4 linked regions of the Homo sapiens genome follow. The protein of the gene in region 2 purifies or fractionates together with the protein of the main gene of each other region. This does not show direct contact. Each region holds a gene or a part of one and is shown on either strand. Other genes may lie near its edges. The genes, in order: EXOSC10, PARN, ARHGEF1 and XRN1.

Region 1 (3,628 bases), on a different chromosome or scaffold from region 2:
TACAGAAAATACAAAAATTAGCTGTGCATGATGGCTCATGCCTGTGGTCACAGCTACTTGGGAGGCAGAGGCAGGAGGATCACTTGAGCCCAGGAGGTAAAGGCTGTAGTGAGCTGTGTTCATGCCACCACACTCCAGTCTGGGCGACAGAGCAAGACCCTGTCTCAAAGAAGTTCCAACTCTACAAGAAGCCTGCATCTCTAATTTTGCTTTTACATCTTTTTTTTTTTTTTTTTTTGAGATGGAGTCTTACTCTATCACTCAGGCTGGAGTGCAGTGACGCCATCTTGGCTCACTGCAACCTCCACCTCCCAAGTTCAAGCGATTCTCCTGCCTCAGCCTCCCGAGTAGCTGGGATTACAGGCACACACCACCTCGCCTGGCTAATTTTTGTATTTTCAGTAGAGATGGGGTTTCACCATGTTGGCCAGGCTGGTCTCGAACTCCTGACCTCAGGTGATCCACCGGTCTCAGCCTCCCAAAGTGCTGGGATTACAGGCGTAAGCCACCGCGCCCAGCCTTCGTGTTTTACATCTATAAAATGGGAATAAGAGCAACTGCTACTTCTCAGGACTGCAGTGAGGTTTACATGAGGCAATGCTGTGTAGGCCCTTTGTGAACACAAACAGCAGGTTTTATTGCTAAGGCCCAGGTTGGGGTGTAAGGAGGAAATCACTACTCCTCAGATTGTTTTCATGTATATACTCCACAAAAGTGAAAATGTGGCAAAAAGGTAAGTACTCACGGCAGAAAGTCAGACACAGGCCAACACTTACATGTCTTGCTCAACCTGCTGGGTTCTCTGCTGATGGATGAAATCAGCCAGTGCAGGGGGGACGTCCAAGTCCTCAGGACGATCCTGTGGGCGTTCCCGCCTTTCCTTAGAGAGAGCTGGGGATCCCAGCAGTGACAAAAACATCATTAGCACATTCATGTCTTTTCTAATTACACAGGGGTAAACTGGTTCCCTTTGTTTTTTGGCTTTTTTTTTTGAGACAGGGTCATGTTCTGTCCCCCAGGCTGAAGTGTGGTGGCACAAGCACAGCTCACTGTAGCCTTGACCTCCTGGGCTCAAGTGATCCTCCCACTTCAGCCTCTGGAATAGCTGAACTGGGCTCCCTTTGAACAAAGGAGGGTGGGCTCCCTTTGAACAAAGAAGAGAGACCTGTACACCCTTCCTGGTTTTTGCATCAAATAAAGTGAGACTCAAACACAGGCAAAGTATGCACTATTTACCTTGAGGGAGAGGTTTCTGAGCATTGGGTTTGATGAAGATTTTAGGAAGAAATGGTGTGTTGGAATTGTCAATCTTCTCTCGAAACTTGAGCTGAGGTCGGATGATATTTTTTGCATGAAGCAGCCGGAAAGTTTCAGATTTTGCTTTTTTGCCATATTCTGCTGCCTATGATCAATGAATACAAATACTTTATAACACAGCAACTTGATGAATTAGAAAAGTAAATTCCAATTTATGACTTCTGAGGAGACAAGAACATCGCAAAGGTCATTCATTCATTTAAGAATGTATGTGCATGTAGAGGTCTCCAGAAAGAGAAGAAGAGGGTGTAATTAGTTTGTGTATGTTTATGAGAACAAACTAAAGGAGACAGTGGCCAGTTCTCTAATAAATTAGAACAGAAATGCATGTTAGAATGAGCAAAATCTCTGTTATGAAGCTGACATCAAGAGCTCTAGTTAATCTGAAAAGCCCTCACCTTACGGTTCCAGCTGGACACTACCGTTTTGGGGACCTGCAAGCCGGCAGGGAGGACAGGCTGTTGATTCTTGTTTACACCTGAGGCTTCATCCAGTAAAATACCCTAAGAGTAGAAGAGGTACTGGTTAAGCATTTTTCCTTTTGAGGTTAGCAGAGTTAACTACCTAACATTTTATTTATTTAACATGGAGTATCACTCTGTCACCCAGGCTGGAGTGCAGTGGCGCAATCTTGCCTCACTGCAACTCTTTACAGTTCTGAATTGGGCTCACTGCAACCTCTGCCTCCAGGGTTCAAGCGATTCTCCTGCCTCAGCCTCCCGAGTAGCTGGGATTACAGGTGTGCACCACCATACCTGGCTAATTTTTTATTTTTAGTAGAGATGGGGTTTCACCCGGTTGGCCAGGCTGGTCTCGAACTCCTGACCTCAAGTGATCCGCCCACCTGAGCCTCCCAAAATGCTGGGATTATAGGCGTGAGCCACCGTGCCCCACCTAATTACCTAACATTTTAAAGAGATTGGTATTCAGAGACATTTGTGTAAGAAAATATACATATATAAGAACAGATCAATGTATGTATCAAAACATCAAGTTGTATGTAATAAATATATAGATGGTCCCCAATGTATGACAGTTTGACTTGTAAGTTTTTGAGTTTACAATGATGTGAAAGTGATTTGCATTTAGTAGAATCCATATTTCAAGTACACTTACCACCTGTTTTTCTTTTTTCTTTTTTGAGACAGAGTCTTGCTCTGTTGCCAGGCTGAAGTGTAATGGCGTGATCTCAGCTAATTGCAACCTGCCTCCCGGGTTCAAGCGATTCTCCTGCCTCAGCCTCCCAAGTAATTGGGACTACAGGCATGCACCACCACGCCCAGCTAATTTTTGTATTTTTAGTAGAGACAGGGTTTCACCAGGTTGGCCAGGATGGTCTCGATCTCTTGACCTTGTGAGCTGCCTGCCTCGACCTCCCAAAGTGCTAGGATTACAGGCGTAAGCCACTGTGCCTGGCCCTGTTTTTCTTTTTTTTTTTTTTGAGAGGGAGTCTCACTCTGTTGCCCAGGCTGGAGTGCAGTGGTCCAATCTCAGCTTGCTGCAGTCTTCGCCTCCTGGGTTCAAGCAATTCTCATGCCTCAGCCTCCCGAGTATCTGGGACTACAGGTGCACGCCACCACGCCCAGCTAATTTTTGTATTTTTTAGTAGAGATGGGGTTTCACTATGTTGACCAAGCTGGTCTTGAACTCTTGACCTCAAGTGATCCACCTGCCTTGGCCTCCCAAAATGCTAGGATTACAGGCATGAGCTACTGTGCCCGGCCACAACCTGTTTTTCACTTTCAGAAGTGTATTCAATGCTACTTGAATTACATGAGATGAATATTCAACACTGTATTATAAAAATAGGCTTTGTGTAAGATTTTGCCCAACTGTAGACTAATGGAAGTTTTCTGAGCACATTTAAAGCAGGTTCAGTTAAGCTATTTGGTAAGTGAGGTGTATTAAATGCATTTTTGACTTATAATATAGGTTTATTGAGACATAACCATGTAAATGATCGCCTATACAATTTTTGTCAATAAAAAAATAAAAATTTTACAAAGTTGATCAATAAAGGTCATTAGTATGTCATGCCAAGTAATTAATGCATTATTTGCTCAAAGGCAGGTAGGACAGTAATTACCCATGCCCAATACTCGATTGACTCTTTAAAGCTCTGAATTGGGCTGAAAATTCTAATATGATTTAACAGTGTAATGTGGCCACTAAAATAACTAAGAAGTCCCTGGACTGCATACATTAAATATAGAAGTACACTATTTAGAATGAAACTGCAGGGAGTCCTCATCTATTTTGCACTTTAAAGCAGACGTGAAATATCAGCTTGGGCACTACTAACAGAGGCACA
Region 2 (3,188 bases):
CTGGGTTTCTAACTTTGTGGCTACAAAACTCCAGGGAGTTTTGTAGGAAGGGAGAGGAGCAGGAAGGGGGAAGAGAAGTTAACATGCTTTAAAAAAAAAAAAAAAAAAAATTTTTTTTTTTTTTTTTTTAAAGACAGGGTCTCACTGCGTTGTCCATGCTGGTCTTGAACTCCTGGGCTCAAGTGATCCTCCCGTCTCAGCTTACAGGTGTGACAGAGGCTCTTGATTAGGGAAACTGTCTTACAAATCGGAATCTGCATAACACCCTGGGATTCCAGTGTGAGTGCTAAGGGTCCTCATTCCTCCCACCCTCCTACAAGGCCACTTACCACCAGGGCTCAGCTCGGTACTGAGGAGCCGATCCATCGTGGCAGGTATAGCAGTTAGGGGTAAAAAGAAGAAGAAAAAAATCCATGAACATCAGCCTTAGTGGCTTAGCAGATTTTTTTAGGAGTGTGAAATTTATCTGTGTATTACTAGAGAGCGAAAACATCATTCACTTATTAAAAAAAAAGAGAGGAGAAAACCAGAGTCCTATGAAAATGTTTTTAATTTTCATCTTTTGGAAATACATTTTTCATTTTTATTTCCACCATACAAAAATGTGAAATATCTAACAATGATCTATCTGAAGCGGGTGGAGCAAAGCAGCGCCATGAGCGTTTGTCGTTGCTGTGATCTGTTTCAACGGAGAATGGGCTGGGACATGTTGTAGATTTGCACGATTTCACACACACACACACACACACACACACACACACACACACACACACACAGACACGTACGCACACACGCTGCCGTACCCCGAGACCGCCATCCAAACAAACGAACAGAGACTCTGGAAAGTGAACACAGCGCCACGCATAAGAACAGAAGTTAACCTTTTTACTCGTACATCCCCCATGAGAAACTCACGTCTTAGGAGAAAGGAACTCTACATAAATATGCCCAAAGGCCAGGGCATACGGCAAGCCCTCTCATGGGTGGGCATGAGTGGACATCTTCCTGAAGGAAGGACAAGCTTGAGAGCGTCATGTTTTCAGGCAGCTATGGTGGGAAGCAGGGAGGCACAACCGATTTTTCCACTGGGAGACTAACCGAGGGCTGCAACTGCCTCAAAATCTCAGTGCGAGAAGATGCACAGGCAGGACAGTACACCCCCAAATTCATGATCACAGCAGCTGGAATGTCAGCTCTTTTTGCAGATTTCACAGCCGACACTCCCCATCAGGCAGGTTCTTAAGCACACTGGGTCATGACAGGAAAGGCCTCACAAGAGCAACACGGAATTCACTGGTTAAGCACGTACACATTCATGACAGCCTACAACCGTGATGAGTGTCAATGTCAACAGGCAGTTAGATTAAAAAGGGGAAAAAACCACAGCCACAAAAATAAAACCTGTTTTCTCCCCCCCAGGAGACAACTTGGTTTCCAACCCCTCCCATACCACATTTGATTAAGTTAAATACAGTGCGGCTTCCAAATGTGCCAGCCGGCTCTTGCTCACAGCGACAGCACCAGCGGTTTGCTGCCCTCAGGTCTTGGTTACCATGTGTCAGGAACTTCAAAGAGTGTGGCAGGGCTGTTCTTCGAGATGCTTCCTGGTGGGAAAGAACAAAACAATATGAACAGCAGGACCAGGACGGCACCTTGAGGAGAGCATGACATGACCAGCAGACAGACAGAGGGCCTGTGACGGCTGCAGACGGGGCCAGCGTCTGGCTAAACAGCTGCGCTGGAAAGAGTCCACAGACAGGTCTTGTCTAGGGAGGGCAGTGCCCAGCATGGGAAAGTGAAACCACAGAAACATCATGGGGGCGCGGAGGAAGCACCTCCCTGCCTCCAGCATCTATCTATTTATTTCACAGGAGTTAAACTGTAGCCATGCACAGTATTCCTCACTGAACACCATGCTGGATTCTTTGTTGGCAATACAGCGGGCATTTAATTCATATAATCTTCATTAAAAGCCCACCAAGGTGGTAACACTACCCCATTTTACAGATGCAAGAACAGATTGAGAGAAGTGGGGTAATATGACCAGATGTACAGAGCTAGCAAGTGGCTGAGATGGGGTCTGAATCCTCCCACAGCACCAACATCCCTGCCAAAGTCCCTGGAAACTGAGTTTCTCTGTGCTGTGCTGTGGCTCTGCCTAGGTGAGAAATCTCAGGTGGGCAGCTGAAGGGCAGAGGGAAGCCAACCAGTGGGGGTTCCAATATCTCAACAGGGGCAAAAGAAGGTTGCAGCTTTTTCCAGCTTCGGTGAAGCTGGCTGGGGTCCTCTTCTTGGATTGAAAAGATCTCTTCAGTGACAAAGTTTCACCCCAATGTCAGAAGCCCTTCTTTTTTATTCATGCCACTTTCTACAATACGAGCAGCTGCGGCCAGCAACTGAGCTGGGACTGGACTTCAACGAATGTGAGGGAAGTCAGGAAAGAGCATGTTCATAATGGAAAGTGTGGCCCGACCAGGCGTCAGCTGCACAAGTGGTGCCATGCATTAAGTCATAAAGTAGGGCTGACGGGGGAAACTGGCAGTCTCTCTTCTAGCTGCTAACACCAAGATTTTAGAAAGGGAGAGAAGTCTTTGATGATACCTCCAATGGGAAATAACTTTTAAATACAGAGGGGGTGCAGTGTCTTACAAACTAGGGAATCATATCACTGAGTTCACAGTGGTTATCATCAGTAACAGGGATGCTTAAAAATAACGAGGTCTGAACACAAGAAAAAACATGAAGAGAATTTCAGCTAACATGAGAATTTCTACTTCTGATCATTTACTGTGATAAGATCCAGGGAGTTAGGGTGAGGAGACCGGGAAAGGGTAACCGGACTCTTTCTGCCCTGGGTCTCATCGCTCTGAACAGGCACGTTCTGGGACACCCAGTAAAGATGGCGAGACCACTCTGGAGAAGTGAAGATGGGCAGGAGATGATCCACTGAAAAGGACTCATGGGGTCCAGTGAAGTACTGCAAGGGGCCTGTGATAACCTGCAGCTAGCCTGGCCTTCCCAGTCCCACAATGATACAATAAACACCTAACTGTATGAAAAGAAACATCCATTAAGGGCACTTTTATAATTCACATATGAAAGAAATATTGCAGTAGCCAATTAGCCATTCTAAAGGTAAAAGCTACAATGCCAAATGTGGGGAACTGAAGTAAATTAAATCCAGCTCA
Region 3 (3,628 bases), on a different chromosome or scaffold from region 2:
AGGAGGGGGAAATAAAGGAGATGGAAGGAGTGGTGGAGAGGAAGGGAGGAGGAGAAGGATTAGTGAAAAAAGGAAGGAGAGGAAGGAGCAGAGGAAAAAGGAAGGATAAAAGGAAAGGGGGGCAATGAGGAAGCAGGAGGGAGATGAGAAAAGGAAAGAAGAAGGGAGAGGAATGGCCAGACCCAGAGAGCAGCAGAGGAGCATGGGGAGCAAGAGCCTGGGACAGGCAGGCACAGATGGCAGCGGTGACCCTGCACCCACCCACCAGCGCCCAGTAAGCCACACCTCCCGCCCCTGCACCCCAGCCTGGGCACCTCTCGGTTTCGGCCCCCTCGTCGGTACTCTCTGGGGGCGCCAAGGACTCCAGGCTCATTGGGCCCTGCGGGGATGAGTCCCCCAGCTCCAGGGGGGCGTCAGCACCTGTGGGGTGGAGGGAGCAGGGCTGGCTGGAAGGCCTCTGCGGCCACGAGACCCACACTCTGGGGGCCTGGAATTGCGGGGGCTAAAGCTACCCAGTGCCTGGCAGACACCACATGGCTGCTCTGTACTTCAGCACGGGACGGACAGATGTTAAGACCTCTCAGAACATGGCCACTAGGGGCAGGAGCATGAAGATGCAACAGAAGTGGGTGCCCCTGTGTGTCCTGGGTGGATGGGGACCCCAGGCCTAGCAAATAGGTCACAAACATCTCTCCCACCCAACCAGACTGCAGCCCCCTGAGGTCGGGAGGGCCCTGGATTCTGTGCTGCCTCCACGTCCATTCATCCTCCCCACCCTCTCATACTCCTTTAGAGAAAAGCAAACGGAGGCTAAGAAAGGGGAGTCATATCCAAGATACTAAATAAACACAAGCAGTCAGCAGAGCTGGTGTGTGAGCCCTGGCCTGGCCATGCAGAGATCCAAGGGCCTGAGGCCACAGCAGTGTAAGGATGGTGAGGGATGAAGCTCATGGGGCTGGCGGGCTCCCCACCTAGGGGGCCAGCAATGCAGCTCAGAGGGTGGACTGGTCATGTACTCAGGGAAGGTTCTGGAAAAGGAAGGGTTGATGGAAAACGTAGTCCAAGGGGGTGGGAGACGCAGCACCAGCAGAGAGGTCAGAGCCTGGGAGCAAAGCTGTGGAAAGGGCAAACTGAGGGAAGGGGAAAGTTATGAATGACAGTGGTGACCAGGAGCAGGGAGAAGTGGATGCTGAGAGCAAAGGGGAGGTGTTGCTGGGGAATGGCTTCTATCTGGGGGTGCCAAGGGGGCAGGCAGCACCCCCACCCTGGATCGCCGGGCCTCATGGAGCCCTGGCCCAGGAAACTCTCACCTGGTTCCCGGTCTGGGCTGTCCAGGGACAGAGGGTGCAGAGAGACTCCAGGGGTGTCCTGCCCAGGAGCCCCGATATTCCGGTCCCGAGAGGGCATCCCCACGCCTCCCTTCCGGTCTGTAGCACCTGGCTTCTCGGCTGGGGAGACAGTGAGGGAGAAAGAGGGAGATAAGAGAACAGTAACTCAAATCCACAACCGCCAGGGGATGCAAGAGGCTGTGCTCAGGCCCTTCCCCACCATGACAAGGAGCCCCTTCCTCCCTCAGACCCAGGAGCCCTCAACCCCTCCTCCCTCAGACACAGGAGTCCAGGCCCCCAGCCCCTCCTCCCTCAGACCCAGAGGTCCAGGCCCCAGGCCTTCCTCCCTCAGACCCAGGAACTCCCCCAGCCCCTCCTCCCTCAGACCCAGGGGTCTAGGCCCAGCCCTTCCTCCTCAGACCTAAGAGTCCGAGTCTGAGCCGCTCCTCCCTCAGACCCAGGGGTCCAGGCCCAATCCCTCCTACCTCGGACCCAGGGGTCCAGGCCCCAGGCCTCCCTCCCTCAGACCCAGGAGCTCCCCCAGCCCCTCCTCCCTCAGAGCCAGGGGTCCAGGCCCAGTCCCTCCTCCCTCAGACCCAGGGGTCCAGGCCCAGCCCTTCCTCCCTCAGACCCAGGAGCTCCCCCAGCCCCTCCTCCCTCAGACCCAGGTGTCCAGGCCCCCATCCCCTCCTCCCTCAGAACCAGGCGTCCAGGTCCCAGCCCCTCCTCCCTCAGACCCAGGCGTCCAGGTCCTAGCCTCTCCCACACAGGCCCCCAGTATGGATGCTATGGCTACAGGTACATTACCATCAACCTCTGCTTTGAGGTGTCGAAAATCTGGAACTGAAACGAGAGAGAATGAGACAGTGAGTGGGAGCAGCTGGGGAAGACAGGGGAGGGCAGAGGCCAGAGCCGCCTTACCCTGGGGCTCTCCCCGGTTCCAGCGGGCGGCATCCAGGATGCTGCTCAGCCCCTTCTTGGTCTTGGCAGGCTCGTCCGACCGCCGGTTCCCCATCACCTGTGAGAGGGCGGGGAGGAAGACCAGGCTAAGCATCTCTGAGACAACAACAAAGCAGAATTTGACGCTAGGTATCCAGAGTCATGAGGCTCCCAGGGCGTCTCTGGAGAGGAAAGGGTCAGGACGGGGCACTGAGGGAAGCACCTTTTTCCGGAAGAAGTTCCTCCCCGACTTCTTGTCTCCACTCTTGGTCCGCACCCCAAGGTGGCGCATGTACAGGCCAATGGCGTTGACCACGGCAGCACTGTAGGGAAGGGACAGTGAGGGCTCAACACACACAAAGACACACACACACACACACACACACACACACACTCACACACACACTCTCTCTCTCTCCCCCTAGAGGCAGAGGCCCGGCCTTCCCATCCTGACCCCACAACTACTTCCTGTGAGACTCTGAGGAGAGATGAGAGGGTTCAAAAGGACAGGGGCAAGGGCTGTTACCCAATGCCCAGGACCCAAGTGTCCAGGCCCCAGGCTCCTCCTCCCTCAGACCCAGGAGTCCAGGCCCCCAGCCCCCTCCTCCCTCAGACCCAGGAGTCCAGGCCCCCAGCCCCCTCCTCCCTCAGACCCAGGAGTCCAGGCCCCCAGCCCCTTCCTCCCTCAGACCCAGGAGTCCAGGCCCCCAGCCCCCTCCTCCCTCAGACCCAGGAGTCCAGACCCCCCAGCCCCCTCCTCCCTCAGACCCAGGCGTCCAGGCCCCCCAGCCCCCTCCTCCCTCAGACCCAGACGTCCAGGCCCCCCAGCCCCTTCCTCCCTCAGACCCAGGAGTCCAGGCCCCCAGCCTCCTCCTCCCTCAGACCCAGGAGTCCAGGCCCCCAGCCCCCTCCTCCCTCAGACCCAGGCGTCCAGGCCCCCAGCCCCCTCCTCCCTCAGACCCAGGCGTCCAGGACCCCAGCCCCCTCCTCCCTCAGACCCAGGCGTCCAGGCCCCCCAGCCCCCTCCTCCCTCAGACCCAGGCGTCCAGGCCCCCCAGCCCCCTCCTCCCTCAGACCCAGGCGTCTAGGCCCCCCAGCCCCCTCCTCCCTCAGACCCAGGCGTCCAGGCCCCCCAGCCTCCTCCTCCCTCAGACCCAGGAGTCCAGGCCCTCAGCCCCCTCCTCCCTCAAACCCAGGAGGCCGCACGCCTCCCCTGCCCCCCTCACCTCTTTTCTTCGTCGGTAGAGATGGTATGTCTGTAGGAGGAAGAGAGATGTTTGTGACATATTTGCTAGGCCTGGGGTCCCCATCCACCCAGGATACATCTCAGGGTTGCTGTCCTGGGATAGGCAGGGGGAAGA
Region 4 (3,092 bases), on a different chromosome or scaffold from region 2:
GAGAAGAGATTAAGATAGGAGAGAGCTCCATAATGGCTGGATAGTGGTCAGGCATTCTCTATTCTTTTCCCCCTGTAGACCCATTCTAAATGTGGGCCTGAGGTCAATGGGAGATGTGCCCTCCCTATGGAGGATGTAAGAAGCAGAGGCCATTTCTGCCCCATGTTGAGGAAACAATCTGTTGATAGACCTGGAATTTAGAGTATATCTGAAAAGCAGTTGGACTTCAAGAAATTTAAAATTCTCTCTTTGAGATGGGGTGGACTAAGACCACCCCCAAAGTTTAAAAATATGCTCATTCAACTTGAATCTTCTGAGGACTTTTTGTGAAAATGGTGGACTGTTTAGGGCATAGGACAGATTCCCCAAATTGCTTTATGCTTCCACATAACTAGAGCACTTCAATCTATTTAAGCCTTTGTCTCCTAACTGAAACATTATTTCTAAATATTTCTATTCAATAAGTTTTTTCTTTTTTGAGCAACTTAAGTGAATTTTGAAGATTGCTCCTTCCAGTCTCGTTCCTTTTCACATTTTCCTGCATTACCTAATAATTACCTCAGCGTTAGAATTTGAATGTATTAATTGATTTAAACATCATGTAGACTAAAGTCTTAAACATCTAAGACTCAGTTGTAGTTGCAGAAAAAAATTAAAGTCACCTCTACTGAACCTTGGTTTCAATTTAAGATTTTTCTTGCTTTTCAAAGGGGTAACTAATAAAGATTGAAGGGTTTTTTTCCCGATTGGTGGAGGAATGAAGAACTATTGATGCAAGTTTTTTTATTGTTTCTTTCTATGATCAGGTACCTGCTTTCATTTTAGACTGCTACTTCCAAACTAAGCTAGATTCTTGGTTTTAATGAGAGGAGGCAGAGAGAGGGAGGCAGATGGAAGAAGAAAAACAGTTAAATAAGACATACCCAGTCACTGCATTTTTGGACTATACCGTATCTTTCTAGCACAAGGAAATAGATAAACTGTAAGGTCTTTTTTACTCACTTTTTATTTATGTGTTCTATTTGTGTTAGTCATAACTGTTTATAGTGGTTGTCTAATTTTTACTTTTATTATATGAGATAGAGCTGTGCAGATCTTCACTCAAGTTAGTTCTGTCACGCTTCTTCCCATTATTTAGAGCACAGTTTTTTAAAGCAACTGTACAATTTCTCAGCCTTATGAGCTTGCTGTATTTCTTGGTATCATGTTGCTTCCAAATTTTGTTTTTACTGTAGAAGACAATTAATTTATTGTAGAGAAGTGGCTGTGAAAGTCGTTCTCTGTCTTTAAAAATCAATTGCAGAAGTTCATTTGTCATTTTTCTAGAGATAAATTATAGTACTCAAACTGGCAGTGCTCAGTATATACATTTTGTAAGCTTTGTCAGTGAAACCATCAGTTTTGCAGGAGCTTCCTTTCCTAGTCAAGATAAAGCTTAAAATTCCAGAAATTAATGTCGTTCGGACTGACTTTATTCATATTTCCATCAAACTTCTCCAATACAGTAAGAGATAGTGTTGAACCAGCATCAAGTCTCCAGAAACATGGCAGAGCAGACAGGCCGTTAAGTTTCACAGACATCATAGATCCTTTTCTTAAAGAAGAAAAACATGTATAAAATAGTTTTAGTAGTCCAAAATGTCAACTATCTGTAGCTGCTTTTGTGTGTGTGTCAGTGAACAAATAATAATGCCTTGCTCAATCAATGCATTCAGCCATCTCAAGTGCAATTTGTGAAGGAGACTATGGTTTCCAAAAGATACATTTTTTTACAAAGTTAAACCTGTAAAAAGTCTTTTTTTTTTTCCCTCCAGCCGTACACCAACTGCACTTGGTTGTTTCAGCAGTTGGTATACTATTAAATTGTCCAGGCCAAATAGGTTTCTGTAGCTGTTTTAGTAATTTGAAGCCAAATTCTCATGCTGTTTCTCATTAAAAAGAATGAGAATTTGGTCCATAGTTAGCTTTAAGTTCTCTCTTCCTTTCTTTCCCTTACAGTTAAGGGTTTGGTGGGGGATGGGGAGGTTGTTTTCGTTTTTTGGATTTTTTTGTCTTTTGGCTTTAAGTATCATATTTTCTTTTGCCTGTATCCAACTGCTTCTTTGAGTATTTTCATCTAGTTTAATGTGAGTAATAGATGCTGTGCTGTCATTGAAGTGTTCAACATTTTGTTCATTTAAACAAAAGTGTAATTCATACATATATAGATACATATCTTAATTGATTTCTCAACTATTTTATAAGTAACTGGAATTTTTCATTAGATCTTATACAGAGAAGTATTTTATTAAAAATTCAAAAGGGAAGACTTTTATGTGCTCATTTTGTAATTTTTGATTTTAAATATCTTTACATTGTCTGCCAATTAAAGTGTTTTAAACTTGCATTGGAATGGACTCCGAATGTATTTTTGTGGTGTTACGTTATCCGTAGATTTCTAGCATGAAGTTAGCCTCACGATGCTGTGCAAAGGATTTTAAAATATGAGAGTCACTGAAAGAGTTTAAACATCTGTTCATGTTAAATGCTCTATGGATTTTAATTAAAGACTTGAGAATGATTTTATAAGCTGTTTGTTCTTTTATTACTATGCTGATATCAAAAGTAGAAACATTAGTCTTTTTGTTTGTTTGTTTTTGAGACAGAATCTTGCTCTGTCGCCCAGGCTGGAGATCTCGGCTCCCTGCAGCCTTCACCTCCCAGGTTCAAGCGATTCTCTTGCCTCAGCCTCCTGAGTACCTGGGACTACAGGCACATGCCACCATGCCTGGCCAATTTTTTAATTTTTTTTATTTCCATAGGTTATTGGGGAACAGGTGGTGTTTGGTTACATGAATAAGTTATTTAGTGGTGATTTGTGAGATTTTGGTTCACCCATCACCTGAGCAGTATACACTGCACACAATTTGTAGTCTTTTATCCCTTGGCCCCTTCCCACACTTTCCCTCTGACCCCCAAAATCCATTGTGTCATTCTTATGCGTTTGCATCCTCATAGCTTAGCTCCCACTTATGAGTGAGAACATACAATGTTTGGTTTTTCATTCCTGGGTTACTTCACTTAGAATAATAGTCTCCATTCTCATCCAGGTT

The links.
Region 1: the proteins of PARN (region 2) and EXOSC10 fractionate together in Homo sapiens (co-fractionation; one large-scale study listed by BioGRID). This does not show direct contact.
Region 3: the proteins of PARN (region 2) and ARHGEF1 fractionate together in Homo sapiens (co-fractionation; one large-scale study listed by BioGRID). This does not show direct contact.
Region 4: the proteins of PARN (region 2) and XRN1 fractionate together in Homo sapiens (co-fractionation; one large-scale study listed by BioGRID). This does not show direct contact.

What each region holds. Positions count from the first base shown.
Region 1 is NC_000001.11:11,089,778-11,093,405, forward strand, and holds part of EXOSC10 (exosome complex component 10), read right to left. Parts: intron 1,821-3,628; coding exon 1,716-1,820; intron 1,403-1,715; coding exon 1,237-1,402; intron 892-1,236; coding exon 777-891; intron 1-776. UniProt on the Homo sapiens protein: Catalytic component of the RNA exosome complex which has 3'->5' exoribonuclease activity and participates in a multitude of cellular RNA processing and degradation events.
Region 2 is NC_000016.10:14,435,169-14,438,356, forward strand, and holds the end of PARN (poly(A)-specific ribonuclease PARN), read right to left. Parts: intron 1,605-3,188; coding exon 1,549-1,604; 3' UTR 533-1,548; downstream 1-532. UniProt on the Homo sapiens protein: 3'-exoribonuclease that has a preference for poly(A) tails of mRNAs, thereby efficiently degrading poly(A) tails.
Region 3 is NC_000019.10:41,893,169-41,896,796, reverse strand, and holds part of ARHGEF1 (rho guanine nucleotide exchange factor 1), read right to left. Parts: intron 3,524-3,628; coding exon 3,494-3,523; intron 2,591-3,493; coding exon 2,491-2,590; intron 2,347-2,490; coding exon 2,250-2,346; intron 2,172-2,249; coding exon 2,136-2,171; intron 1,449-2,135; coding exon 1,311-1,448; intron 421-1,310; coding exon 315-420; intron 1-314. UniProt on the Homo sapiens protein: Seems to play a role in the regulation of RhoA GTPase by guanine nucleotide-binding alpha-12 (GNA12) and alpha-13 (GNA13) subunits. Acts as a GTPase-activating protein (GAP) for GNA12 and GNA13, and as guanine nucleotide exchange factor (GEF) for RhoA GTPase.
Region 4 is NC_000003.12:142,306,083-142,309,174, reverse strand, and holds the end of XRN1 (5'-3' exoribonuclease 1), read left to right. Parts: 3' UTR 1-2,565; downstream 2,566-3,092. UniProt on the Homo sapiens protein: Major 5'-3' exoribonuclease involved in mRNA decay. Required for the 5'-3'-processing of the G4 tetraplex-containing DNA and RNA substrates. The kinetic of hydrolysis is faster for G4 RNA tetraplex than for G4 DNA tetraplex and monomeric RNA tetraplex.